7 linked regions of the Homo sapiens genome follow. The protein of the gene in region 1 purifies or fractionates together with the protein of each later gene. This does not show direct contact. Each region holds a gene or a part of one and is shown in the gene's direction. Other genes may lie near its edges.

Region 1 (4,204 bases):
TTTCTAGTGCATTGTTAACTTTTGTTTTGTTTTGAAGACAGAGTCTCTCTCTTTTACTCAGGCTGGAGTGCAGTGGTGCAATCTCGGCTCACTGAGAACTCTGCCTCCTGGGTTCAAGCGATTCTTATGCCTCAGCCTCCCAAGTTGCTGGAATTACAGGCGTGAGCCACTATGCCTGGCTAATTTTTGTTAACTATTAACAGTATGTAATGTCAGTTCATGACATCTATGAAAAAAATATATATATACACTCATAAGCATTTGTTATGGAGGAGGCATTATTCTAAGAGCTTTATATGTTTTTGTTCGTTTTGGTTTGTTGTTGTTGCTGTTTGAGACAGGATCTCATTTTGTTGCCTAGGCTTGAGTGCAGTGGCATGATCTTGGCTCACTTCAGCCTCCATCTCCAGGCTCAAGGGATTCTCCCACCTCACTTTCCCAATTAGCTGGGACTACAAGCATGCACCACCATGCCTGGCTAATTTTTTTTTTTTTTTTTTTTTTTTTTTTGGTAGAAACAGTTTCACCATGTTGCCCAACCTGGTCTCAAACTCTAGGTTCAAGTGGTCTGCCTGCCCCAGCCTCCCAAAATGCTGAGATTATAGGTGTGAGCCACCATGCCCAGCTGTTTTGTTTTGAGACAAGGTCTCACTCTTTTGCCCAGACTGGAGTGCAGTGGTGTGATCACAGCTCACTGCAGCCTTCAATTCCTGGGTTCAAACAATCTTCCTGCTTAGACTTCCAAAAAGCTGGGATTATAGGCATGAGCCACTGTGCACAAGAATTTTATAAATATTAACTCACTTAATACTGCCCACAACCCCATCAGAGAAGCACTGTTATTATCCTCATTTTACAGTCAAGGCTGCTAAGCTTAAGGATGAAGTAAGAGGCTGGAGCATGTTGGGTGGCAGTGAGGGAACTTTCCTACTGCATCCAGAAAGGCCTCTCTGAGGAGGTGACTTAGGAGGAAGTGAGGTTAACAGCAGGAAGAAAAGGCCTGGGAGTTGAAGGTTCATCCCTGGTGTGTTAGAGGAACAGCAAGAAGACGGGTGTGGCTGGAGAGGGTGGGTGAAGGCAGGGGTGCTGGGAGACAAGGTTGGGGATGGGATGGCAGGGCTAGAGCTGCTAATGGCTCATAGGGAGGAGCTTGGAGTGGTTCTAAGTGTCATGGGAAATTGGTGGCCACCCAGTCGCTGCGAGAAAGCCGTCAGAATGGAATCAGTGGGCCTGGGTCCTGCTGTGTGTCCTTGGGAGGGCCACACACCCTCTCTGATCCTGTCTACTCACCTGCATCAAGCCAGTTTGTACAAGCTGATGTCTGAGGGCTTCTTTTTGCTCTGCATGCTCTGGTTCTACTGAAGGAAGAGAGGGACCTGTTGGTTGTATCCAAATCCCAATCCCCTGGGCCCAGGTCCTCAGACTGTCCCATTCCTGCCTCCCCTCTTTACTCCCCTGGGTCTGGCCTCCCAGAAAAGGTTGGGAAACCAGGGGGGCTGTTGCAAGCCCTCAAGTGGCCTTGCCAAACCCAGCCAGAGAGGCTTTCTTGCACCAGGTGACCCAGACACTGCAGTGGGTTGTTCGCAACTGGACAGACCTAGAGAACAGCATCGTGTCAGTGGAGCGGATGCAGGACTATGCCTGGACGCCCAAGGAGGTGATGGGCGGGAGGTGGGGAGGGGGTCCCAGCAAGGACATATTGTGGGGGGGGGCAATGGGTCCCTGTTGACATCTGCTACAGGCTTTGGAGTTTATACCCTCTTCTCCCCTCACTCAACCCCCACCACTATAGGTCAGAGTCACAGACAGGGTGGCAGCAGTGGTTAGGAGCATAAGGTTTGGAGCCAGGCCAAATCTTGGTTCCTTTGCTTCTGAGCTTGAGGAAAGCAGGTCACCCATGGGAGTGCAGGGAACCACAAGGAACAGCATTGCAACAGCAACATAGCTGCAACATGATAGTAACATAATGGCAACAGCAACACAATGGCAATATTCCAGAACATGAGAGTAATGCAACAGCAATGTAACAGTAATGTAACAGCAACATAACCACAATATTGCAGTACCAGAATAGCAACATAGCAGTGTAATAGTAACATAATAGAGACATTATAGTAACATGATGGCAACATTCCAGCAATACAACCACAACATAGCAATGTAATAGTAACGTAATAGCAACATTTTAGTAACATGATAGAAACAAAACAGCAACATAGCAATGCAATAGTAACACAACAGCAACATCATAACATGACAGCAACATCCCAGCAACACGACTGTAACAGAGTAACAGAGTAGCAACATAACAATGTAACAGTAACAAAACAGCAACATTATAGTAACATGATGGCAACATTCCAGCAAAATAACTGAAATTATAGTAACGGAATAGCAACATGGCAATGTAACAGTAAGAAAACAGCAACATTATAGTAACATGATGGCAAAATTCCAGCAACATAACAGTAGCATTATAAGGACAGAACAGCAACATAGCAACGCAACGGTAACAAAACAGCAACATGATATAATGTGTTAGCAATATAACAGTAACATTACAGTAACAGAACAAGGAAGAATTAATTAGTTGATGAATAGGGTAGAAGAAATGGTGAGAGATGGACAGATGAATGGATGGAATGGGATGGAAGAATGAGAGATGGAGGGATGGGATTGGAGATGGATGGATGGATGCATGGATGGATGGATGGGTGGGATGGGGTGGATAAAGGATAAGAGATGGATGGATGAATGGATGGATGGGATTGGGTGGAAGAAAGGATAAGAACAGCAGCATAGCACTAATGTAACAGTAACATAACAGCGTTGAGTTTACTGGGAGGATCAAATGAGATCCTGCAAAGAAATGATTTAATAGAGTGCCTGGTCCATTGCAAACACTCAATACATGTCTGCTGCTCTTATTAGCCCTATTTCCCAGATTGGAAAACCAAGACTCAAGGGGGTAGAATGATCTGTTCAAGGTCACGGGAACAGCAAAGGCAGTATTGGTCTTCCCACTGCACAGTCATGTCCTTTCACAAAGACAAAGAGAAATGTCTGCTCCCACTATAGAAAAAGAGATTATTTTATAATAAACAGTGGCTAATAATAACAATAAAATAGACTAAAAGTAGCCACCACCATCTGTTTTTAGCATTGACATAGTCCATGCCCTCTCTTGTTGAATTCCCATAACAACCCTGTAAAACAGCAATAAATACGTCCATTTTGCGGAAGAGAAAACTGAAGCTGATAGAGGTGGGCCATCTTGTGTGAAGTCTTAGAGGAAGGCTCCTCTGACTCAGTTTCCCCTCCTGCTCCAGGCTCCCTGGAGGCTGCCCACATGTGCAGCTCAGCCCCCCTGGCCTCAGGGCGGGCAGATCGAGTTCCGGGACTTTGGGCTAAGATACCGACCTGAGCTCCCGCTGGCTGTGCAGGGCGTGTCCTTCAAGATCCACGCAGGAGAGAAGGTGAGTGGTTCTCTCACAATGTCTTCTTCATGGAGTTTAGGCCAAAGGACTCCAGGGACAAGGCCCTAAACCCTGGGCACCAGCCACCTCCACAGTGTCCCCACCTCAGGTCCCCTAGCTTTCAGACCCATTACCCCCTAAAATGAACTCCTCACCTTCCCCAAACCTGCTTCCATCTGGTGACTTCCTCATCCACCTTGGTGTCCCCAGATGAGGAAGCAACTCCGTGACTTCCTTCTTCCTTTAACATTAACCCAGCACCTAATATGTGCTGGGCAGTGTGTTAAATGCTCCAGGTACATTTTCCAGTTTGCACAAATGGGATATTTGCTTTCAGCTGGGAGACATTGGGAAAAGCACTTCATAGCTCAGTCTCAGTTTTCCCATCTGTAAATTGGGACTGGTAATACTGATCTCTGAGTTGTTGTGAAGTTTGAGTTAATACATAGAACATGCTTAGCTCATAGAAAGTGCTCCAGAAATGTTTACTAATGCTTTTATTATTTGCGTTTTCACTCTCACAACAACCCCTAAGTGAGGTGCTAGTACTATCCCATTTTACAGATGCCTCATCAGGCCCCTTCACTGAATCCCTTTCCTCCCTCCCTCTGAACCTACAGAGGCTTCCTCCCTGTCCTCTCCTTGTCCCCTAAAAAGCAGTGGATCCTGTCTCACCAGCTCCAATCTGCTCTCCTGTGATTTTTTTTTTTTTTTTTTTTTGAGACAGA
Region 2 (4,204 bases), on another chromosome or scaffold:
CCATTCTATAGAAACCAGGTGGCTGTGGACTTTGTGGGAGGTTGGGGGTGCACATGGTGGGTTCAGGGGCCCAACTCACACTTAGAGCTGGTATGGTGCTGTTTGTGTGGAAGCAAGCTCACCTTCCTCTGTTGGGGAGGGAGGTCTGTTCCCTGGAGATGGGATTGGTTGGTTTGCCCATCCTCTTTAGGAGATAAAGAAGAAGAAAGGCATCAAAGAGGAGGTGCAGCTGACCAGCAAGCAGAAGGAGATGCTGCAGGCCCAGCTAGACAGGGAGGCGCAGGTCCGGAGGCGGCTGCAGGAGGTGAGTGGCCACCTCCGCCACATGCTCAAGCCGGAAGAGTGCTGGGCAGCTTGGTCCTGCTGCTTGCTGTCACAAGCAGGGCCCTGCTGACCTGCCTTCTGGACAACTCTGCTTGCAGCTGGATGGGGAGCTGGAGGCGGCGCTTGGACTGCTGGACATCATCCTGGCCAAGAACCCGTCCGGCCTGACCCAGTACATCCCTGTTTTGGTCGACTCTTTTCTGCCCTTGCTGAAGTCTCCCCTGGCTGCTCCCAGGATCAAGAACCCCTTCTTGTCCTTGGCTGCCTGTGTCATGCCCTCTAGGCTCAAGGCTTTGGGTTAGTCCTTGTTTGCTGGCTGCAGGGATGGCCCAGGGGTGCCCCTGAGTGCTTGGACAGGGTGTGCCCCTGAGTGCTTGTGGGGAGGTGGGTGGTGACCTCAGCTGCTGAGTTTTGTTTTCTTGTGGAAGCAGCCTTGGAGACTCAAGCTGGATATGCTTAGGAGAGACGTAGTGCCTCCTCTTCTCTCCCACTTCACATCTGTGCCCTCCCTCTGAGGAGTAGGTTTTAGATGCTAGTCAGTGTTCGATCTTTGTATACCAGTTTTAAAACTAAGAAGTCAGAAGTTCAGTGGCAGTGAGGATGGTTTGGTGGCTCAGCCCAGCCCAGATCTCCTGAACAGCCACATGACAGCAGTGAGCAGAGGCCCTTGAGACCTTTAGCTTCCTCTTAGCTCTGGAGAAACAAACACCAGGTAGGGTGGCTGGCAGTTCTGGTGGCCTTGCTTCTGTGGGTTGTTTAGTGGCCTTCAGCAGACTTCTATCCTGGCCTAACGGTGATGTTCCCACGGGTGAGGCTAGAATCTGGGAACTGTTCTGAGTGGAAAAGTCAGCTGGTGCATATGAAACCTGCCAGAAGTGTCACCTGGCTGTCTGGGCTTGTTGCGTAGAGGTGGAGATGCTGCACAGATAGAGCTGTACTCTTGGCTGAATGACTCTTTGGTGGCCCTTGTCTCCTGTCAGCGTACTCATTTCTTAAATGTCCAAAGGGCAACTCTCTGCCTACCTGCCCTCTGAGGCTGTCACAAAGATCAAGTGAGAAATTAGGCTGGGGACATTTTGGCGAAGCAGAAAGATTTTTTTTTTTTTTTTTGAGACGGAGTCTTACTCTGTCACCCAGGCTGGAGTGCAGTGGCGCCATCTTGGCTCACTGCCAGCTCCGCTTCCCGGGTTCATGCCATTCTCCTTCTTGAGCCTCCTGAGTAGCTGGGACTACAGGCGCCCGTCACCACGCCCAGCTAATTTTTTGTATTTTTAGTAGAGATGGGGTTTCACCGTGTTAGCCAGGATGGTCTCAATCTCCTGACCTCATGATCCGCCCGCCTCGGCCTCCCAAAGTGCTGGGATTACAGGCATCAGCCACCGCGCCCAGCCGCAGAAATATTTTTTTAAGTCAGAAGGATGAGGCACTGGGTCCCCTGTTTTAGCCTGGGCTGGATTCCACATCTCTGTGTGTCATCTCCTGCTGGGTCTCTCCTCTTCAACACAGGCACTTTGGTGAGCCACGTGACCCTGCGCCTGCTGAAGCCAGAGTGTGTCCTGGATAAGTCCTGGTGCCAGGAAGAGCTGTCGGTGGCTGTGAAGAGGGCGGTGATGCTGCTGCACACCCACACCATCACCAGCAGGGTGGGCAAGGGGGAGCCAGGTAAGGGCTGGGACGGGATCAGGGGCACCAGGCGGTGTGAGCTGGTGCCAGGAATGCTGCTCAAGGCACAGCGTCACCCAGGGCCTCCTGAGCCTGGGGGATTGGACCATATGGAGGATTTCTGAATTGAACCTTCGTAGTCTGTGAATTGCAGTGAGCCCAGTTGAGGGTTTACTTTTTGTCACTGGTGTCCCCATCTCTGTTTTAACTCTCACATCCTGGAACTGGGCAGTGTTTGGCAGTAGAAGCAGAATTGGTTTTAGAACTGGACTACCAGCTGCTGTCTCTGTCCTCGTGCCATGTGCTTCCAGGTGTCAGAACGGGCCTCTGGTCCATCCGTTCCCTACTTTCCCTGAGGATAGAAATAGGCAGCAGTGGCCCGGGTCCCTGCCCTGCCTGCAGAATCTTATCTGCTTCTCGCTCTCACAGGTGCTGCGCCCTTGTCCGCGCCAGCCTTCTCCTTAGTCTTCCCGTTTCTGAAGATGGTGCTGACGGAGATGCCCCACCACAGTGAGGAGGAGGAGGAGTGGATGGCCCAGATTCTTCAGATCCTCACTGTCCAAGCCCAGCTGAGGGCCTCCCCCAACACCCCACCCGGGCGGGTGGACGAGGTTGGCAGGGAAGCTCTGCTCTCCTCTTGGTTTAAAGGGGATCAGGGAGGCAGGGCCTGTGGACACGTTTTGTCTCATGAACAGTTCCTGGTGGGGAAATAGAGAGTGTATGTTTATACCAACAGCAGCCTCACACAGTGTTGTGGGTTTTTTAAGGCAAAAACGGGTCAGACTGCTTCTTTCATGTGATTGTAGACTCTGGCTCTCCTGCCATGCCAGTACATGTCAGTTCACCTGATTGACTTTGTTGGCTGCATGAGATTCTGTGCTATGGATGTACCATGTTTTACTTAACTCTTTACCTGTTGATGAGTTCTTAAGGTTGTTTCTAACTTTTTCCTGTTTTGAACAGCACTGTGATGTGCCCTCTTGTATGTATATGCCCCTTACTTAACCAGTGTGAGCATTTCTTTAGGACAGGTTCATTGGACATGGAATTACTAGATTATATGGCATATTCTGAGCTATACTCTCACCAAGAGTTTTCTTTTCTCAAAGCCTTAATGCAACCTCAGATAGTATTAATATCGTCAGTGATGAGTGAAAGAATGATAATCTCATTTTATTTTGCATTTCATTTAAAGTTGAGTGTCTCTTCATATATTTACGGTCTTTCTGGATTTCATAGTGTGAATTTCAAGCAAGTTTCAGAATTTAGTTTTTAGTTCCTGAGGATCATGGTTGACTGGGGTTAGCACCTGTGGACCTAGTTGTAAACTTAATGAGGTTTCTGTGGTGGGGCCGGTTGTATGATCCAGAATGTTCCCCCGTGGGTGAGAGGATGCCCTGCCGTTGGCCGCCTGGGTTACAGACCTCCCCACAGCCTCATCTCGACTTACCTGCCGTTCTCTCCTAGAATGGCCCGGAGTTGCTGCCTCGCGTGGCCATGCTGCGTCTTCTGACTTGGGTGATCGGGACGGGCTCGCCTCGCTTACAGGTGATGTGGTTTTCAGTTGGCTGTTGCTGTGACTCAGTTCGTGACCCAGACCTCAAGTCCCAGTGTAAAGGGTGGAGTCCTAGTTTCCTTTCAGCCCTTACTTTTGGACTTTGGTAGAAAGACTGCTTTAGAGAGCCAGCCTGACTGTTGTTAGCTAGTGAGGGGTTTTGCTTGGGTCCTGCCACTGGAGCTGGGGTCTTAGCCCTTGCAGTGCTGTAGGGGTGGGTGTTCTCAGTGCATATCCCTCTCTGGCCCCCTAGTAGTAAATGAGTTGCTGACTGAACCAGTGGATTGATGTTCTCCTTAGGTTCTGGCTTCAGACACCCTGACCACCCTGTGTGCCAGCAGCAGTGGTGATGATGGCTGTGCCTTTGCAGAGCAGGAGGAGGTGGACGTGCTGCTCTGTGCCTTGCAGTCCCCGTGTGCCAGCGTGCGGGAAACCGTGCTCCGGGTGTGTGCTCAGTCTCAGAGCCACTGCAGTGTCCCTTGTCACTCTATGCAAGTGCAAATTGCATGATGGGCATTTGAGAGAATGTCCCTCACTCTGGTGGGAGGCCTAGAGGCAAAGAGAAGAAGTCACATGGTTGGGGTCTCTCTGAGAATCAGAACACTAAGCAGTCATGATGTATCACTGTATTTTTTCCTTTACCTTGGAACACTTCACTTAATT
Region 3 (3,214 bases), on another chromosome or scaffold:
CGTATAGGCTATCAGGTCACTGCCATGATTGGGCACACAAATGTAGTGGTTCCCCGATCCAAACCCTTGATGCTAATTGCTCCCAAACCTCAAGACAAGAAGAGCATGGGACTCCCACCAAGGATCGGTTCCCTTGCTTCTGGAAATGTCCGGTCTTTACCATCACAGCAGATGGTGAATCGACTCTCAATACCAAAGCCTAACTTAAATTCTACAGGAGTCAACATGATGTCCAGTGTTCATCTGCAGCAGAACAACTATGGAGTCAAATCTGTAGGCCAGGGTTACAGTGTTGGTCAGTCAATGAGACTGGGTCTAGGTGGCAACGCACCAGTTTCCATTCCTCAACAATCTCAGTCTGTAAAGCAGTTACTTCCAAGTGGAAACGGAAGGTCTTATGGGCTTGGGTCAGAGCAGAGGTCCCAGGCACCAGCAAGATACTCCCTGCAGTCTGCTAATGCCTCTTCTCTCTCATCGGGCCAGTTAAAGTCTCCTTCCCTCTCTCAGTCACAGGCATCCAGAGTGTTAGGTCAGTCCAGTTCCAAACCTGCTGCAGCTGCCACAGGCCCTCCCCCAGGTAACACTTCCTCAACTCAAAAGTGGAAAATATGTACAATCTGTAATGAGCTTTTTCCTGAAAATGTCTATAGTGTGCACTTCGAAAAAGAACATAAAGCTGAGAAAGTCCCAGCAGTAGCCAACTACATTATGAAAATACACAATTTTACTAGCAAATGCCTCTACTGTAATCGCTATTTACCCACAGATACTCTGCTCAACCATATGTTAATTCATGGTCTGTCTTGTCCATATTGCCGTTCAACTTTCAATGATGTGGAAAAGATGGCCGCACACATGCGGATGGTTCACATTGATGAAGAGATGGGACCTAAAACAGATTCTACTTTGAGTTTTGATTTGACATTGCAGCAGGGTAGTCACACTAACATCCATCTCCTGGTAACTACATACAATCTGAGGGATGCCCCAGCTGAATCTGTTGCTTACCATGCCCAAAATAATCCTCCAGTTCCTCCAAAGCCACAGCCAAAGGTTCAGGAAAAGGCAGATATCCCTGTAAAAAGTTCACCTCAAGCTGCAGTGCCCTATAAAAAAGATGTTGGGAAAACCCTTTGTCCTCTTTGCTTTTCAATCCTAAAAGGACCCATATCTGATGCACTTGCACATCACTTACGAGAGAGGCACCAAGTTATTCAGACGGTTCATCCAGTTGAGAAAAAGCTCACCTACAAATGTATCCATTGCCTTGGTGTGTATACCAGCAACATGACCGCCTCAACTATCACTCTGCATCTAGTTCACTGCAGGGGCGTTGGAAAGACCCAAAATGGCCAGGATAAGACAAATGCACCCTCTCGGCTTAATCAGTCTCCAAGTCTGGCACCTGTGAAGCGCACTTACGAGCAAATGGAATTTCCCTTACTGAAAAAACGAAAGTTAGATGATGATAGTGATTCACCCAGCTTCTTTGAAGAGAAGCCTGAAGAGCCTGTTGTTTTAGCTTTAGACCCCAAGGGTCATGAAGATGATTCCTATGAAGCCAGGAAAAGCTTTCTAACAAAGTATTTCAACAAACAGCCCTATCCCACCAGGAGAGAAATTGAGAAGCTAGCAGCCAGTTTATGGTTATGGAAGAGTGACATCGCTTCCCATTTTAGTAACAAAAGGAAGAAGTGTGTCCGTGATTGTGAAAAGTACAAGCCTGGCGTGTTGCTGGGGTTTAACATGAAAGAATTAAATAAAGTCAAGCATGAGATGGATTTTGATGCTGAGTGGCTATTTGAAAATCATGATGAGAAGGATTCCAGAGTCAATGCTAGTAAGACTGCTGACAAAAAGCTCAACCTTGGGAAGGAAGATGACAGTTCCTCAGACAGTTTTGAAAATTTGGAAGAAGAATCCAATGAAAGTGGTAGCCCTTTTGACCCTGTTTTTGAAGTTGAACCTAAAATCTCTAACGATAACCCAGAGGAACATGTACTGAAGGTAATTCCTGAGGATGCTTCAGAATCTGAGGAGAAGCTAGACCAAAAAGAGGATGGTTCAAAATACGAAACTATTCATTTGACTGAGGAACCAACCAAACTAATGCACAATGCATCTGATAGTGAGGTTGACCAAGACGATGTTGTTGAGTGGAAAGACGGTGCTTCTCCATCTGAGAGTGGGCCTGGATCCCAACAAGTGTCAGACTTTGAGGACAATACCTGCGAAATGAAACCAGGAACCTGGTCTGACGAGTCTTCCCAAAGCGAAGATGCAAGGAGCAGTAAGCCAGCTGCCAAAAAAAAGGCTACCATGCAAGGTGACAGAGAGCAGTTGAAATGGAAGAATAGTTCCTATGGAAAAGTTGAAGGGTTTTGGTCTAAGGACCAGTCACAGTGGAAGAATGCATCTGAGAATGATGAGCGCTTATCTAACCCCCAGATTGAGTGGCAGAATAGCACAATTGACAGTGAGGATGGGGAACAGTTTGACAACATGACTGATGGAGTAGCTGAGCCCATGCATGGCAGCTTAGCCGGAGTTAAACTGAGCAGCCAACAGGCCTAAGTGCCAGGTTCCCTGGCGTTGGTGACATGCTGCAGCCTGGAACTCTGATATCCAGTGTGACTGCAAAGCTGTCTTCTCACTGGTACTGCCTTGTGAGTACTGGTTGGACTGTGGGGCATGTGGCCGCTGCAGTTCCAGTGGTTATTTCTAAGTCTATGACAGGACAGGCTGTTCTTGCTTCAGAACCTTCTCTGACAGACACGGTAACTAAATGTGAAAAACCAATAAGCTGGTGACTCATGAATACACACGAGGAAAAGCAGAGGTTTATTTTATCTGCCTTTTCAACATTTCTTTCCCTCTGTGAAATGATTGGTCAGATGTCTTTGAGAAGTGTTAAACTAATTCACATGGTAGTGTAGGGCCAACATACAAGCTACCAGTCTAATGTGTATAGTAGACTTTGGGAAAAGCGATTTTTTTTCATGTATTCATTCTGAATAGTTGAAATGTATATTTGTACAGTCTTTTAGACCTATTCAAGTGATGCTCATGATCCTGTTACTGTGTGCCCATCATAGATTTCTTTTTTTAGTGTTGCCCTTGCTGTGTAATAAACGCTCTATCTAGTTTACCTAGCAAAAGCTCAAAACTGCGCTAGTATGGACTTTTTGGACAGACTTAGTTTTTGCACATAACC
Region 4 (4,204 bases), on another chromosome or scaffold:
AGAATTTACCATTTTTAACCATTTTTAAGTGTACAGGTTAGTGGCAGGCATTAAATACATTCACATTGTTGTGCAGCCATCACCACTATCCGTCTCTGGAATCTTTTCATTTTTCCAAACTGAAACTGTAAATTAATGTTTAAAAGAATGTTATAAAAATTATATTTCCTGAAATACTGACGAAATAATGGCTGGTATCACTTTAAAGATCTGAAACCTTAGCATTTAGGTTGCATTTCACTATTGGTCATTGTTTTACTGCCTATGACATTTATTTTTTGGTTTTGCCATGGGAAATACATATTTTGTCTTTAACAGAAAATTTAAAGGAATATAATTTAAAGCAAACACAGCTGCGACACTACATTCAGGAGCTCAGAAAGTACCATTAAAAATAGTATATACCTAAGATGACAAAAGAAGATGAAGTACACCAGAAATGATTGTATGATGCTTTCAGTGGGCTAGGCCTAGAAGGTAAAACTCTGTAGGAAACAAAGTTTTATGAGATAACGTGTAAAGTGCTTAGCCTAGTGCTTGGTACATCACAGTGCTCATTAAATTTAGTTCACTTCTCCTGTGCACACTTAGCATGTTATTAGTTAACTGCTTTAAATTTTCTTTTCAAAGGAAAATGGTTTTATTTGCAACTATTTCTTGCTACATAATTTTGAGTGAGTAGCATTATCATTTGAATTTGTCATCAGAAAAGTGCTAGCAATCATTAGGCATAGGTAGAGCTGGATTCCAAGACTAAATCAGTGTAAAGATGACATCTTGTTTCTCTGCAAAGGCTCATGGCTTTATGTGGGTCCTTAAATTAATCTGAGAAGAGTATATCTCTTTTATGGTTGCAGATTGTGAGCCGCTTAGTATTACTTAGAGTTTTGCTTCTCTACTGCCTCTTTTTTTTTTTGGAGGCGAGTCTTCAGTAATATGCTTTTGTAGTGTTTGAAACCTTTGGGTAAATACCTATGCTTTGTTGTCAAGACCAGCTTCTCATACTGCTTACCTATTATGGTAAAAAGAACTGTGTTTCAGGCTTTGCTGAAGAGATATTTTTCTAAAGGTCTGTGCTTTTTGAGTGTTGATTTATTTTACTCTTTCAAAGAGTAAACAGTCACAATAACCTGTAGGACTCACGCTTGGGTAAACTCTTACTTAAGACTTGTGTGGATGGGCAAAGGTGATTAAAACTTTGTTTACAATTTTCAGTGGCATAAAACATAAAATAATTTGATTGATTTCATTATACTTGTAAACTATCTGACAATATTATCTCAGTGCTTAGACTCTTTCAGCATGCTGCTGGTTATTTGCCTAGTTAAAATAAAATTGTATGTGTATTTTTCCCATCATGTAATAAGTAAGAACATTATAAAGATACAATAAAAATGAAATAGAATAAAAATTAAAAATCATTTTATACATTTTTTTCTTTATGAAGAGTTTGGCATTTATAGTGTAAAATTTGTGACTAGTTTACTTTAAAACTTTCATGTTGATAGGAGATATTTAAAGAAAATGAGTTAGCTAGGGAGGTTTTAAAAAAAAGGTGATGTGTGGAACTTACTGTTGATGTGAAGCAAGTGCAGGTCCGCAATCCCTTATCCACAATTTTGATATATAAAAAACCCAGTTTTTGGTAAAATGTATTTGATGATAACATCTGACCTAATCTCACATTAGAATACTTGTGGTCTAGTCATTCCTCTTGATGTAAATAATAATGCCTTTTGCTGGAGGAATATGAATGTATTTGATTTCAGGGTGTTGCCCAGATTTTCAAGAGCATTTTTGGGAGTACACAGTATATGTACTGTGTACCTTTCTAAAATCCAAGAAATTCTGAGTTCGGAAACATTTTGGTCCCAGGGTAAGGCCAATGTAGACTAAGTAAGGAAATACGGACTTACATACACTTCAGTAGCTGTAAATAAATAGTGGATAATTATCTTGAAACCTAACTTTTTTGTTTTTTATTTCCCAAGTCTTGATCAGATAGCCCTCTTTTTCCCATTTTGAATTCTAAAAATATAGTATGCAAATATAAGTTACGAAGCGTAAAAACATATTCATGAAATCACCACACAAGTTAATAAGTGGAACACTAGCCTGTAGAAGTTACCTGTGTGCCGTCGCCGCTGCTGGATTCAGTCTTCCTGCATCCTCTCTCATCTGCTACCCTGAACATTTTATTGTTCCTTTGCTTCATTTCATAGATTACTACATTTGTGTGTATCTCTAAACAATATTGTTTAGTTTTACTTGTTTTTTTAACTTTATAAAATGTCAGCATTTTTATGTATTCTTTTATGACTTGCTTTATTTACTGAAAATGGTGTTTCTAAGATTCACTAACATTGTGGGTTATTCATATTCTCTGCTATGATAATCAGTATAGCTCCGATCTACTTAATGGATATTTACAGTTTTCTTTCTTTCTTTTTTTTTTGTTTTTTTTTTTCTGTTATGGAAAGTGTTGCTAGGAGCATTTCTGGAGCTCACGTGAATAATTCCTGTAGATTAGGGTATATATCTGGGAGTGGAATTGCTGGATTTTAAGATATACTATGTTCAGTCAACTTAATATAATGGATAGAGTTGAAAATTTTCCCCATGATGTTATTATAGAAAATTTCGAAGTATAGTAAGGGTGAAAAAATCGACAGTGAACATCCATATATTTACCGCATAATTAATATTTTGCTGTATTTGCTGTATTTTCTTTATCTGTCCATTCCTTTATCCATCTATCAATACATCTTTTATTTTTGGTTCACTTAAAGTAAATTGGAGATATTAGTATACTTCACCTTCAAACACTTCAGTATGTATTTAATTAAGAAGAGTTCAATATTTGTTTAGATTTTTTAAAGATTAAATTTGCATGCAATGAAATGCACAGATCTGAAGTGTACCGCTGGTGAGTTTTGACAAATGCACACACCTATTTAATGCAAATTCTTGTAAAAATACAGACCATTATTACCAACTCAGAAATCTCCTTCACACCTTTTCAGCTAATTTCACACACCATTTTCTTCTATTAGAGGCAGTCATTCTTCTGATTTTTTTTTTTTTTTGCAGTAAAGATTACTTTGACTTCTTCTATACTTCATAAAAATGGAATCATATAGTATATACTTTTCTGTGTCTGGCTTCTTTAATTTAGCATTGTTTCTGAGAGTTATCTGTGTTATTGTGTGTGTCAGCAGTTTATTCCTTTTTCTCATTGTTGAATTGTCTTCTGTTATATGTATAAACTGCAGTTTGCTTGGATATCTCGTGTTGATGCATACCTGGACTAGTTTTCAGTTTTTTGTTTTCAGAATGTACACTGGTCCCTTGGTGTTCTCCGGGGATTGGTTCCAGGATACTTGCCTTATAGTCTGCCTACGTACCAAAATCCGACGACGCACAGTCCTTTTTATAAAATGGCATTAGTATTTGCATGTAATCTGTGCATATCCTCCATATACTTTAAGTCATCTCTAGATTACTTACAATGCCTAATACGATACTGTATTGTTTTAGTTTGTATTTTTTAATTTTTATTTTTTTTCCAAATTATTTTTGATCCATGGTTGGATTCATGGATACAGAGTGCTGAGTGTATTATATATTTTGGCTTGATTTTTTTAAAATATGGAGACAAGATCTTGCTCTCTTGCTCAGGCTGGGATGCAGTGGTGTAGTCATAGCGCACTATAACCTTCAACTCCTGGTCTCAATGATCCTTCCAACTTAGCCCCTCTAGTAGGGACTACAGGCCTGTGCCACTGTAATTGGCTAATTTTTATTTTATTTTATTTTTGCAGAAATGGGGTCTTGCTGTGTTGTCCAGGCTGGTCTCAAACTCCTGGCCTCAAGTGATCCTCCAGCCTCAGCCCCTGAAAACGTTGGATTAGAGGCCTGAGCCACTGCACCCAGCCTACTTTGGCTCTTAATACAGTTGTTATGAAAGTTTTCATTTCTTTTGGGTAAATTAAATACCTTGTAGTGGAATTGCTAACTCATAGGGCAGATATGTGTTTACTTTTTAAGAAACTGATGGCCAGGCATGGTGGCTCATGCCTGTAATCTCAGCACTTTGGGAGGCTGAGGTGGGTGGATCATTTGAGGTCAGGAGTTCGAGACCAGCCTGATCAACATGGTGAAACCCCATCTCTACTAAAAATTAAAAGAAAAAAAAAATTAGCCA
Region 5 (4,204 bases), on another chromosome or scaffold:
AAGTAACCACTTAAAAATATAAATGTAGTTCTTAACTCAAGAACTGTTAAAGTTGATAATTGACTGACCCCTGGTGTAGACCATCCCAGCTGAGGGGAGTCTGGGAATATGGACCTGCTCTCTCAGGGTGGACGTAGCTATGAGATTTGGCTCCTGCCTGGAATGGGGCATTTCCCCAGGGCTTCTTCCTTCTTCCTTGGAAATCTTGAGTCAGAGTGAAGAGAAGTTTGGGGATTAAGTTTCAGAGAAGCCCCAGCAGAGAGAACAGATTCTTCTATCTGGGATTTAGACTGATGTTTGTGGTGTGCTTGGATGACCTGTGTCTCTTTTCCCTTTTGCTTTCTTTCCTATAGCTGCCAAGGAGCCTGGAGCCAGGGTCCCTGTGCTTTAGGCAGGCACTTCTCACAGCCTCGGAGAAGTCCAGGAGCTAGGTCAAGGCAGAGGGTTGGGGGCCACAGACAAGGCCAAGGCGGGGCATGGAACAGCAGGGGTCAGATGTTAGGGGAAGTACGTCGGCACCCGGGTGGGGATCTTGAATACTATGTCAGGCACCCACAACAAGAGCTTTGGGTGCTTTGTGTCTAGGGCCGGGTACCCTTGTTTCTGCTGCTGATGCCGTGTTTCCAGTCTGGATTTTAGCAAAATTAACTGACCCATCCTTCTATCTGATGCCTGTTTTCTTCTCTCTCATTAGGGAGTTCTGGGTCCAGCTTTTAGCCCACTTATCTGCCTCCAGCTTTCAGCCTACTTATCTGCCTTCCTTAATCTTTTCCCCCTTCTAACCTCTTTTGCTGGCCTGTGCTCCCAGAGTTCCCAGAGTCTGTCTACACAACTCCCTGTATGTCCTTGGCCTAGGAATTTTTTCCTGTGTTTCTCTAACCAGCTCCTTAGAACCTGGAACTTGTTTCCATGGTCTATACTTCTTTTCTCTATTTATCCATCTGTCTTCTGATTGAAAAAAAAAATTATTTATTTTTGAAAATTTTTAAATTTTTATTTATTTATTTATTTATTTAATTTTATTTTTGAGATGGAGTCTTGCTCTGTCGCCCAGGCTGGAGTGCAGTGGCGCAATCTCGCCTCACTGCAAGCTCCGCCTCCTAGGTTCACACCATTCTCCTGCCTCAGCCTCCTGAGTAGCTGGGACTACAGGCACCCCCTACCACGCCCAGCTAATTTTTTGTATTTTTAGTAGAGACGGTGTTTCACCGTGTTAGCCAGGATGGTCTCGATCTCCTGACCTCATGATCCACCCACCTCAGCCTCCCAAAGTGCTGGGACTACAGGCGTGAGCCACCACACCCAGCCATTTTTTTTTTTTTTTTTTTTTTTTTGAGAAGGAGTTTCACTCTTGTTGCCCAGGCTGGAGTGCAATGGCATGATCTTGGCTCACTGTAACCTCCACCTCCCAGGTTCAAGCGATTCTCCTGCCTCAGCCTCCCAAGTACCCGGGATTATAGGCATGCACCACCACGCCCAGCTAATTTTGTATTTTTAGTAGAGACGGGGTTTCTCCGTGTTGGTTAGGCTGGTCTCAAACTCCCGACCTCAGGTGATCCACCCACCTCGGCCTCCCAAAGTGCTGGGATTACAGGTGTGAGCCACCGCGCCTGGCTTTTATTTAAAAAAAAAAATTTGTTTTCAATTTTTTGTTGTTATTTTTTTTGTGTTTTTTTGAGACGGAGTCTCACTCTGTCTCGCCCAGGATGAAGTGCAGTGGCATGATCTCAGCTCACTGCAGCCTCCCCCGCCTGGGTTCAAGCGATTCTCCTATCTCAGCCTCCTGAGTAGCTGGGACTACAGGCATATGCCACCATGCACAGCTAATTTTTGTATTTTTAGTAGAGAAAAGAATTTCACCATGTTGGCCAGGCTGGTCTCAAACCCCTGACCTCAGGTGATTCACCTGCCTCTTCTTCCCAAAGTGCTGGGATTATAGGCGTGAGCCACCACGCCTGGCCTTAATTTTTTTTTTTTTTTTAAAGAGGTGGGGGTCTCACTATGTTGACTAGGCTGGTCTTGAACTTCTGCCTTCAAGCAATGCTCCCATGTCAGCCTCCCAGAGTCCTAGGATTACAGGCGTGAGCCACTGTGCTCAGCCTGAAAAAATATTTACTGAAGCCCTCTTTATGGTAGATGCCGGGAAAATATTGTTAGTTTTTGCTAGACCTTGCTGAGATGGCTTGGGTAGGAAGGCATCTTAGAGACTGGTTGGGGTGGGAGCAGAGCAAAGGGTTTGGAGCCTCTGAAGAGGCTTCTGGTCCCTTAGACTGAAACCATCTTCCATCTTTTTTTTTTTCTTTCTTTGTTTTGAGATGGAGTTTCGCTCTTGTTGCCGAGGCTGAAGTGCAGTGGCACAATCTCAGCTCACTGCAACCTCTGCCTCCTGGGTTCAAGTGATTCTCCTGCCTCAGCCTCCTGAGTAGCTGGGATTACAGGCACCTGCCACCACACCTGGCTAATTTTGTATTTTTAGCAGAGATGGGGTTTCACCATGTTGGCCAGGCTGACCTCCAGCTGGCCAGGCTGGTCTCGAACTCCTGACCTCAGGGGATCTGCCCACCTCAGCCTCCCAAAGTGCTGGGATTACAGGCGTGAGCCACCGCGCCCAGTTCATCTTCCATCTTTTCACCTCCACTGCATAGATGTGCCTGTTATATTTCTGAGCCCCCTTCCCCCAGCATTGACCTTGGGGTGGTGACAGTAGAAGGCTGAAACCAACATAGCTGAAACCTCTGCTTCTCTCACCTGGCAGGTAAAAGCAGCTGTTAAGTATGCCCTTAGCGTAGGCTACCGCCACATTGATTGTGCTGCTATCTACGGCAATGAGCCTGAGATTGGGGAGGCCCTGAAGGAGGACGTGGGACCAGGCAAGGTAAGGACTGGGGTTGTAAATAGAGGTGGGATAAGAGAACTTAGAAGCTGAAGCTAGGGCTGGGGCCCAGCTGGAGGGAATCTGGCATCAGCTTCCTTCCAGTTCCTCTCCCAGAGTTGAGGGTGGGTGAGACCACGTGCTCATGGCTCTTCTCACTGTGGGCCCTGCCCCCTGCACTAGGCGGTGCCTCGGGAGGAGCTGTTTGTGACATCCAAGCTGTGGAACACCAAGCACCACCCCGAGGATGTGGAGCCTGCCCTCCGGAAGACTCTGGCTGACCTCCAGCTGGAGTATCTGGACCTGTACCTGATGCACTGGCCTTATGCCTTTGAGTGAGCCTTGCCAGAGCCTCATCTGGGGAATCAGGGGGTTGAGCAGGATGGTGTTAGTAACTTATTGTAAGTCACAGCAGCAGAGCAGGATAGGAACACTCATTTGCATGCCAAGCTGAGGAGCTTGACATGGGATCTTAGCCTCTTCTGCTACAGCAGCTTAGCTGTAGCTACAGGAGTTTAACTCTGGAAAAAGGAAGGCAGTCTCACATGGTGTGTACCCCAGGGTATGCACCTGTAACCCTCCTGCTCCCTTTATTCATTTAGAAAAGGTGCTGACTTTTCTGTTGAGCACCTGGGGTTACAGTAATAAGTAAGTCTCAGCAGAAGATGTGAGAAGAGCTCACCATTAGTGCCGTGCCCTGTGCTGGAAGAAGGGTGGATAACTCCCTGAGGATGAGTTAAGGAAGACTTCCTAGGGGAGAGGAGATATCTACGTCTAGGAAGAGGAGGGGGCATAGGCATTCCATGTAAACTTAACACCTGGGTTACGATCTGGAAGGATGAAAAAGCATGGCTTTTTTTGGCCAGGCGCGGTGGCTCACGCCTGTAATCCCAGCACTTTGGGAGGCTAAGGCGGGCGGATCACGAGGTCAGGAGATCGAGATCATCCTGGCTAACACGGTGAAACCCCGTCTCTACTAAAAATACAAAAAATTAGCTGCGCGTGGTGGTGAGCGCCTGTAGTCCCAGCTACTGGGGAGGCTGAGGCAGGAGAATGGCGTGAACCCAGGAGGTGGAGCTTGCAGTGAGCTGAGATAGTGCCACTGCACTCCAGCCTGGGCGGTAAAGCGAGACTCCATCTCAAAAAAAAAAAAAAAGAAAAAGCATGGCTTTTTAAAAATTCTTGGCCCTTTGTCCTCTCTGGGATTGGAGTTTGGGACATAGAGTGGCTGGATGGGCAGGTAGGGTAGAAGCCTGGCATTTGTGTCCACACTTGGTGGGGCTGTCTCTCACTCAGGCGGGGAGACAACCCCTTCCCCAAGAATGCTGATGG
Region 6 (4,204 bases), on another chromosome or scaffold:
GTCCATTTTACAAACCTCTAGCTACAGAGCGCTGATTGGTGGGTTTTTATAGAGCACTGGTTAGTGCATTTTACAAACTTCTAGCTAGCTACAGAGCGCTGATTGGTGCGTTTTACAATCCTAGCTACAGAGTGCTGATTGGTGCATTTTATAATCCTCTTGTAAGACAGAAAATTTCTCCAAGTCCCCACTCAACCCAGGAAGTCCAGCTGGCTTCACTTTCAACACTACAAGATTTTTGAGGGGGTGAGGAGAGAAAGATGGTTATTTGTGCCAACTCTTCCTATTTTGGTACCATTGCTAATAGTCTCAATAGCCTCCTTGACTTCAGATCCTTAGGTTGAGAGTTAAGGGAAAGGAAGGACTTTTCAGTCCCTTGGATATTTCTGAATGGAATATAATGTAATGTAATAGCAGTATAATAGTGTAATGGATTTCCAGTTTTTGTTAATAACAGCTAATATAATTGCATATCTGCTAATTGAGTGTTATCGAAGAAAGTGATTGGATTCCAAATTGATGATATTTAACTGCACCATGTTATTTATTTCTCTTATGATAGACAGTTTGTTACTCTCAACCACATGTCACATACTTGACTCTTCTGGCCTCTTTTAAAATTTTAAACTGCCTATATTGAGATAACTATAAATTCATGTGTAGTTGTAAGAAATAATACAGACAGATCACCCTTTATCCAGTTAGCCCAATGGTTAACATCTTGCAAAACTGTAGTATAATTTCATAAACAGGATATTGACATTGATACAGTCAATATAGAGAACTTTTCTATAACCACAAGTATCCTTCATGTTACCCTTTTCTAGTCACGTGCCTCCTGCTTCCACCCCCTTCTCAGTTCCTGACAACCAGTAATCTACTCTCCAATTGTATAATTTTGTCATGTCAAGAATGTTATATAAGTGGAATCATACAGAATGTAGCCTTCTGGGATTGCCTATTTATAGTCAGAATAAGTCTCTAGAGATTCATCCAGCTTGTTGTGTATCAATGGTTTGTTTCTTTTTATTACTGAGGAGTATTCATGGTATGAATGTACTTCAGTTTGTTTAACCATTCACCTGTTGAGAGACATCTGGGTTGTTTTCAGTTTGGCCTATTACAATTACAGCTGCTATAAACATTTGTATACTGGTTTTTGTGTGAACATTGTCTTCATTTTTTTGGAATAAATGTCCAGGAGCATGGTTGCTGGGTTGTATGATACTTGCATGTTAGTTTTTTAAGAAACTGCTGAATTGCTATCCAGTTTAAGAAACTGCTAAATTGCTATCCAGTGTAGCTGTGCCATTTTCCATGTCTACCAGCAATGTATGATCCAGTTTCTCTACAGCCTTGCCAGCATTTGGTGGTGTCACTGTGTTTTTATTTTAGCCATTCTGGTAAGTGTTTAGTGATAGCTCACTGTAGTTTTAATTTGTATTCGCCTAATGGCTAATGATATTGATTATCTTTTTATAGATTTTTAAAATAAATTTATTTGCCATTTGTTATCTTTTTCAGTGAAATGCCCCTCCTTGGGTTTTGCCCATGTTCTAATTGGATTGTTTACATTTTTATGGTTTATTTTTTACAGTTCTTTGTATGTTCTAGATACTAATACTTTGCTGGATATCCAGTTTACTTTTTCATATTTATTTAAAAGTATCTTGTTTGTATCTATAAAAACTCTTCTTGGGATTTTGATAGGAATACACCATTACATAAGTAGGTAGGCATTATCCACCTAATCTTCTCAATGATGAAATGTCCCATAGAGGGGAGGGACCGTGTTGAAGACAGAGGATGTGGATGGGACAAAGGCACTGAGAATAGGGGAAAAGTGATAAATGAGACATACGTGGGGTGGAAGTTGTGGTGGTTGTCATTTGTTATGCATTAGGGTTCAGTAAGTGAATAATCTTAAAACTATTAAAATTAAATTTCACTTAAGAGGGTGGTCTTACTCCATTGATGAGTTTTCAGTTTCAACTCACTTAGTAAACATATATGTTTACCTTCTGTGCCTGGAACTGTGCTTTAAGCTGGGAATATAGGGGTTGTGAAGACTCTTATTTATTGACCCATTGAAAATTATAGTCTAGTGAAGAAGGTAGCTGCTATAGAATCTCAAGCACCATTGGTGGTCTTTTACTGAACCAGGTGGTAGGAGAACATTGTTCTTAATTGGAGAATCAGTGTGTGGTCAGGATATTCAAATTTCAGGCTGGTTGATCAAGCCTGACTATGAATTTATTTTGCCAAGCCAAGATTATTAGATAAAAATTAAAACTTGAAATTTATCCTTCCCTTTTTTCCTTATGGACCTTTTACAGATGGATCATTCCATTTTACTGTGTCAGCAGTAGGAGGCCATGTTATGTGGCAGATTCGAGGGCAGGGCTCAGGCCAGCAGGTAGTCTCCTTAGAGATGTTAAGCTGTTGATCGGAGGCACTGTCTTGCCTTCTGAATAAAAAGTTTGTGTTCGTTCCATCCCAAGGCAGTCTTTCTGTAAGGCAAATATAAATATCTGCCTGTTAAAGCTAGGTAGAATCAGTATTTTAGATCAGCTTTTCAGGATTTCTGCTCTTGATAAAATTTTTGTTTTTTAAAAAGCATTATTATGATTTTAATATAATTCTTAACAGTGCTGAAAGTTAGCATTACCTAAAAGTGACCTCAAACTTAGTAGTGTTTGCTGTAACACTAGAAAAAAATAATTACCTGTAGGTTGCTGTAGGCCATTCAGTGTTCTCTTCTTGATCCTCCCTCTGTCCTCAGTATTTGCCATCAGTACCTGCCTTGACCTCAGGAGCAAGAAGAGTTGACAAGAAATGAGCCCTCTTGTTACCGGAAGGTACTGGAATTGTACTGCAAGAACTGCTGTTCTTGTTTTCTTAGAAGAAAAAATTCAACCAAGAGATGCACAACAAGGGTTAAGTAGCAGAGTTTATTGAAGGAAGATAAAATGCATTCAAAGAGAGGAACGGCTGACTGGCTGGCTGACCTCCTGGAAAACAGTAGTGGCAGTGTTTATTTAAAGAGACAGCACACCCTGAGAGATGATTCAGAACAGGCTGCTGGAAAGAGAGGATGAGCTAGCAGCAGCTAATGCTGGGGGACCCTCTTTATGAGAATATTGCATGATTATTCATGAGGGGGGCATGAGAGGGTATCAGTTGCAACCATGTTTTAAGCAGTCTCCTTGTGTGTACATGCTACATGCTCTGTAGTTGTACATGCTAGTATACACCTCGCATGTCTCATTAGCATTTAAAATCTCCACACAGGGATGTGGTTTTTACTATTATAATGAACAAAAGCCTACTGTGTAGTCATTGCCTTCTTGCAGACGGTCAGCAGGCAGCGCCTCCAGGACTTTTCCCAGGGCTCCCCTGCTTGCTTGTTTCTGGCCATCTGCCTAACATTCTTACGTGTCTTATGGTAACATTAGGGCTAATAGTGAACCATTCAATGAATGACGTTGTTTCTACCCCAGAAATACTCTCACAGTGGTAGGGAAGATATAACTTCTGCTTATTTCTTAGTAATGAGGGCAGTAGGAAATATGAAAGCATTGAGGAGATTTAGAGAAGGAAATTATATCTCACTTCTCTTTGGGGGTGATCAGGAAAGACCTCAAAGAGAAAGTAGCATTTAATGTGGACCTTGAAGGATGATTAGAAGTTTTGTCAGATGGTGGAGGTGAAACACTCCATCTTAAGCAGAACAAATATGAAAAGATAGGAGAGCATGAAATATCAATGAGGAATAACCCAGTTTCACTAGGTAGGGAAATAGTAAGAAACAAGTCTGGAGAGGGAAGCTGGGACTCTGCTGGGCTGGCGAGTTAGAGCAGAGTTCCACGTGAAGTGAGGCATCGTCGAGGATTTAGTTGTCACTGTCTAGTGAAATGCATCTAAAAGAGCAATCTGACAGTGTTCTGTAGGGTCTGCTTAGCAATGACTAAGTTACGTACACACCATTCTTTGAATTTGACTTTGAATTTGGTATGTAGAACCTGAAGTTATTGTGTGCCCAAATTCATAGTGAGAAGATGTGTTTATGCATAGGTCACACACTTAGTACGCATTAGTATACAATAATGGTGACATAGCACTTTGTTTAAGAGTGTAAACATGTAGCACGGAAGTTGAGGTAACTTATAGTTATGGTTTTTGTCTCAGGTTGACAAGAATTCTA
Region 7 (4,204 bases), on another chromosome or scaffold:
TTGCCATTATTGTGAGCTTTTGCCTTGTTTTTCCTTCCATCCATCCAGCCTTGGATCAATGTTCCTGCCTTCTCTGTACTTGTAGACTGCTGGGTGCTACTAGGAAAAATCAGTCTTGCAGGTTGGTCCACTGCATATTCATGGTCTCCAGCCTCAGCTGTTCCACATTCTCTCTGCTCCTGGTCAGTTCTTCAGTAGTGGCTATTTTAGAGCTTTTCCACGTTCTTCCTCAGAAAACCACTCTATCCCTGCTCCCTGCCTCTTGGCTGGTATGCTCACTACCTATTTTATTTTATAAAGAAAATAGAAACCATTGCACAAGAACTACTTTTCCACTGTCTCAACAAACTTACATATCTCTGTCCCACCTGTCATTTCTTCCTATGCTGCTGTCACTGGAATTTGTGTCCTAATTGCTCTCAAACTAGTCTTGCCACCTATGCCCAGCTGCTGCTCAGAGATCTCTATTAGTTACTTTTTCTCTTGGGTCACCTTTCCCTTTATTGCTTTTACTCCATCAGCATAAAAATATCTCTAGTTTCTTCCATTTATACTATAAAACCCACTTCTCAACTTTTCCTTTACTTTCTCTTGGAGCAAACACTGCGTCCTCTGCTTTTAACAGCCACACTTGGCTATGTGTGGTAGCTCATGCCTGTAATCCCAGCACTATGTAAGGCTGAGGTGGGAGGATTGCTTGAGGCCAGGAGTTGGAGACCATCCTGGGCAGCATAGCAAGACTGCCATCTCTAAAAAAAAAAAAAATTAAAAGTAGCCAGGTGTGGTAGCATTTGCCTGTAGTAGTCCCAGCAACTTGGGAGGCTGAGGCAGGAGGATCACTTGAGTCCAGTGGTTTGAGGTTTCTGTGAGCTGTGATTTGTGATTGCACCACTGCACTCTAGTCTGGATGACAGAGTGAGACCTTGTCTCTTAAAAAAAAAAAAAAAGCCAGACTCTTTCAGTTCTCTATACTTGCTGTCTCTTTACCTCCCACTCCTTCCTAAATGTTAAGAGTTAGAGGGGGGAAAAAAGAGAATGAGTAGGACCCAAGACCATTAAGAGTCCCCCAGAAAGCCAACTCATCTGGGGTTCCAAATCCCTTCAAGTTTATTCTCATGTGACTTTTTTTTTTTTTTTTTTTTTTTGGTATATCACGTGGTAGAAAAGGTGGGAATAGTAATAATGATAACTAACATTTATATAATTCTAACAACAACCTGTGGTATAAATGCTATTATTATCCTTTTCTTACAGTTGAAGAAACTGAAGCTGAGATTAAATAATTTGTTCAAGGTCACACAGCTAACAAATCATAGAGCCAGGCAGTATTCAAACGCGTGCATTCTGGCTCCATCCAGAGTTTGCACTATTAGCCATTAAACACAACTTTATATTTCTGTCCTGCAGTCCTCAGTACATTTCTTAACTTGTCTCAACTGTCATCATCTGGCTTCTTTAGTTACCTCTTTAACTTCTAGTTCCAGCAACCCCTTGTTACCACTAAACCTTGGCGTGTGTTATTCCCTTTTCCTTAGCACTCTTTTCTTGCTTCATTCATGTAGGGACTGTCCAGATTTAACTAATGCTAGTTCTTTGCATTTTTCTTTTAATTACATAAAATTTCTGACATAGTTGGAAACAATGTTTTACCTTTCCAGACCTATTTTCCTCACTTATCAGTGATAACCACTATTCTGAAATTATGTATCAATATCATTTGTTTTTATTGTTTTACTACATATGTGTCTATTATCATTTTTTATTTAAAATGTAACCTATTGTATCTTTTTGTAGCTTGCATTTTTACATATAAGCCTATTATTAAGCAGGATTCCCCCACAATGATAGATGTATACTTGATCCATATTAATCTCTATATAGTATTTCATTGTGAGAATATGCTTTATCTGTTCCTCTATTAAGAGTTGTTTAGGTAATTTTCCCTTCTGTGCCATTTGTCAAACAGGGCTGTGATGAATAGTGTATGTGTCTCTATATGTAGTTGTTTGAGAGTTTCTAATATATATGCCTAGGAGTGGAATTGTTGGGTCATAGGATTGATTATATATCTTTAAACTGACTTGGTTTCACCAAATCCTTGCCACAATTTGGTATATATCTGATTTTTTCTCCTTTTTCTAGTCTAATGAATTCACAGTAGTATCTTTTGATTTGCATACTCCTGATTGTTGGAGAGGTCAACAGTTTTTCATGTTTCTTAACCATTTGTATTTCTTCTGTGAAACATCTGTTCACCTCATTTGCCCATTTTCTGTTTATCATCTTGTTTCTTATACATTTATGTTGGTTGTCTTCTCGTTACTTTATGTTAGCTGAGTAAAAGTTCCCTCCACCCAAATTCTCTTGCCTTTTATTCCCAATAAGACCCCTTGCTTATTAAGCCTGATGCTTGCTCATGCTATTCCTTTTTTACATGACATAACTTTCTTTTTTTCTTTTTCTTTTTTTTTTTTTTTTTTGAGACGGAGTCTCGCTCTGTCGCCCAGGCTGGAGTGCAGTGGCGGGATCTCGGCTCACTGCAAGCTCCGCCTCCCGGGTTCACACCATTCTCCTGCCTCAGCCTCCCAAATAGCTGGGACTACAGGCGCCCGCCACTACGCCCGGCTAATTTTTTGTATTTTTAGTAGAGACGAGGTTTCACCGTTTTAGCCGGGATGGTCTCGATCTCCTGACCTCGTGATCCGCCCGCCTCGGCCTCCCAAAGTGTCTTTTTTTCTTTTTAATAGAGATGGAGGTCTTGCTATGTTGCCTAGACTGGTCTATGAACTCCTGGTCTCCAGTGATCCCCCTGCCTCAGCCTCCCAAAGTGCTGGGATTACAGGCATGAGTCACTGGTGCCCAGCCTTATGTATCATAACTTTTTTACAATAGTTCTACCTTTACTTTTTACAGTGCTACTCCTCTTTTAGTCTTTATTTCATATTTTCATTTGCTCACTCATTCAACAAACATGCCAGTTAATAAGACCCTGGTCCCTGTCCTGTGGCACTTAGGAGGGTCAGATGAAATGCTACTTTTTGCATGAAGCCCTTCCTGACCTCATTAACTGGAAGTAATACCTTTCTGTCCTGATGCCCACAGATGTACTGTTACATTTAAAAGTTTTTCCATGTTTTTTTTTTCTATTCAAGATAGATTATAAACTCCTTGAGGCAGGGACAGCTAATTGCATGGAAGTAATCAATTATAGTAGAATATCAGATGTGTTAGGCATTAAATTGCTTGTTTTAGTCAGATCACTAAAATTTTGATTTCACTAATAATCAGTTGGGGTGTAAGTGCAAAGCTAAGATTTGAATTCTAATTGTGACACTAAAGCCTTAACTATTATATGCATTAACTATTATATGCTTAACTATTATATGCATTGTTCCATAGTGTTTGGTTTCACATTTATCAGTAATATAACCTTGACCTTTTGTTATTTATTTATGTTTTTGACCAGAGACCCATCTATTTTGGATAGTTTAGATTTGAATGAAGATGAACGGGAAGTACTCATTAATAATATTAATAGGCGCTTGACCCCACAGGCTGTCAAAATTCGAGCAGGTAAATGATTTTTTAAATGATTTTTACAGTATTTTGCATGCATCAAAAAAGCTATTAAATAATGAGACTTACCAAAGAATATGTTGCTACATCAACATCTATAAATTTTTCTAAATGGTTGTTTTTTATAACAAAAGCTTAAGAAATTATTTTGGCTTCTGAATCATAAAATTTATATATTGACACAAGTAGAAACAGTCTTGTGAGTTCAGCTAACCTAAAGGTAGCCCTTTTTTTAAAAAGAGGGGTTTGATTGTTTTGTTTTAGTGCATACTTTAAAATATTCCAAATTTTTACAAAGATGAGACATACCATGCGGAATTTTCTCCAACTAGCCTTTTCCACCCAGTGTATCATAGGTACCCTTCCATTGCAGAACATAGGAATCTTTCTCATTCTTTTTTATGCTGGGTAATGTTTCATAGAACAGATAAACCTTAACATAAACCCGTCCCCTCCTGATGAACATTTAGGTTGTGCCAGTTTTCTCACAGTTACAAAAAAATGCTACAAATTAGCACCCTTATATTATACATACTTAACCATTTACACAAATGTTCTTCAAGACAAATTCCTAAAAGTAGAATTTCTGAGTCAAAGGGTAATGCAATTTCTAAACCGTTTTAGATAA

What was found.
Region 2: the proteins of ABCC6 (region 1) and GCN1 purify together in Homo sapiens (affinity purification with mass spectrometry, with the first as the bait; one large-scale study listed by BioGRID). This does not show direct contact.
Region 3: the proteins of ABCC6 (region 1) and ADNP purify together in Homo sapiens (affinity purification with mass spectrometry, with the first as the bait; one large-scale study listed by BioGRID). This does not show direct contact.
Region 4: the proteins of ABCC6 (region 1) and ROCK2 purify together in Homo sapiens (affinity purification with mass spectrometry, with the first as the bait; one large-scale study listed by BioGRID). This does not show direct contact.
Region 5: the proteins of ABCC6 (region 1) and AKR1A1 purify together in Homo sapiens (affinity purification with mass spectrometry, with the first as the bait; one large-scale study listed by BioGRID). This does not show direct contact.
Region 6: the proteins of ABCC6 (region 1) and SUCLG1 purify together in Homo sapiens (affinity purification with mass spectrometry, with the first as the bait; one large-scale study listed by BioGRID). This does not show direct contact.
Region 7: the proteins of ABCC6 (region 1) and EIF2S1 purify together in Homo sapiens (affinity purification with mass spectrometry, with the first as the bait; one large-scale study listed by BioGRID). This does not show direct contact.

The regions. Positions count from the first base shown.
Region 1 is NC_000016.10:16,156,935-16,161,138, reverse strand, and holds part of ABCC6 (ATP-binding cassette sub-family C member 6), read left to right. Parts: intron 1-1,555; coding exon 1,556-1,657; intron 1,658-3,329; coding exon 3,330-3,476; intron 3,477-4,204.
Region 2 is NC_000012.12:120,156,242-120,160,445, reverse strand, and holds part of GCN1 (stalled ribosome sensor GCN1), read left to right. Parts: intron 1-190; coding exon 191-304; intron 305-422; coding exon 423-621; intron 622-1,830; coding exon 1,831-1,986; intron 1,987-2,415; coding exon 2,416-2,597; intron 2,598-3,453; coding exon 3,454-3,534; intron 3,535-3,841; coding exon 3,842-3,985; intron 3,986-4,204. UniProt on the Homo sapiens protein: Ribosome collision sensor that plays a key role in the RNF14-RNF25 translation quality control pathway, a pathway that takes place when a ribosome has stalled during translation, and which promotes ubiquitination and degradation of translation factors on stalled ribosomes.
Region 3 is NC_000020.11:50,890,765-50,893,978, reverse strand, and holds part of ADNP (activity-dependent neuroprotector homeobox protein), read left to right. Parts: coding exon 1-2,574; 3' UTR 2,575-3,214.
Region 4 is NC_000002.12:11,337,794-11,341,997, reverse strand, and holds part of ROCK2 (rho-associated protein kinase 2), read left to right. Parts: intron 1-4,204. UniProt on the Homo sapiens protein: Protein kinase which is a key regulator of actin cytoskeleton and cell polarity.
Region 5 is NC_000001.11:45,563,814-45,568,017, forward strand, and holds part of AKR1A1 (aldo-keto reductase family 1 member A1), read left to right. Parts: intron 1-2,755; coding exon 2,756-2,875; intron 2,876-3,055; coding exon 3,056-3,207; intron 3,208-4,168; coding exon 4,169-4,204. UniProt on the Homo sapiens protein: Catalyzes the NADPH-dependent reduction of a wide variety of carbonyl-containing compounds to their corresponding alcohols.
Region 6 is NC_000002.12:84,434,706-84,438,909, reverse strand, and holds part of SUCLG1 (succinate--CoA ligase [ADP/GDP-forming] subunit alpha, mitochondrial precursor), read left to right. Parts: intron 1-4,204. UniProt on the Homo sapiens protein: Succinyl-CoA synthetase functions in the citric acid cycle (TCA), coupling the hydrolysis of succinyl-CoA to the synthesis of either ATP or GTP and thus represents the only step of substrate-level phosphorylation in the TCA.
Region 7 is NC_000014.9:67,377,193-67,381,396, forward strand, and holds part of EIF2S1 (eukaryotic translation initiation factor 2 subunit 1), read left to right. Parts: intron 1-3,466; coding exon 3,467-3,573; intron 3,574-4,204. UniProt on the Homo sapiens protein: Member of the eIF2 complex that functions in the early steps of protein synthesis by forming a ternary complex with GTP and initiator tRNA. This complex binds to a 40S ribosomal subunit, followed by mRNA binding to form a 43S pre-initiation complex (43S PIC).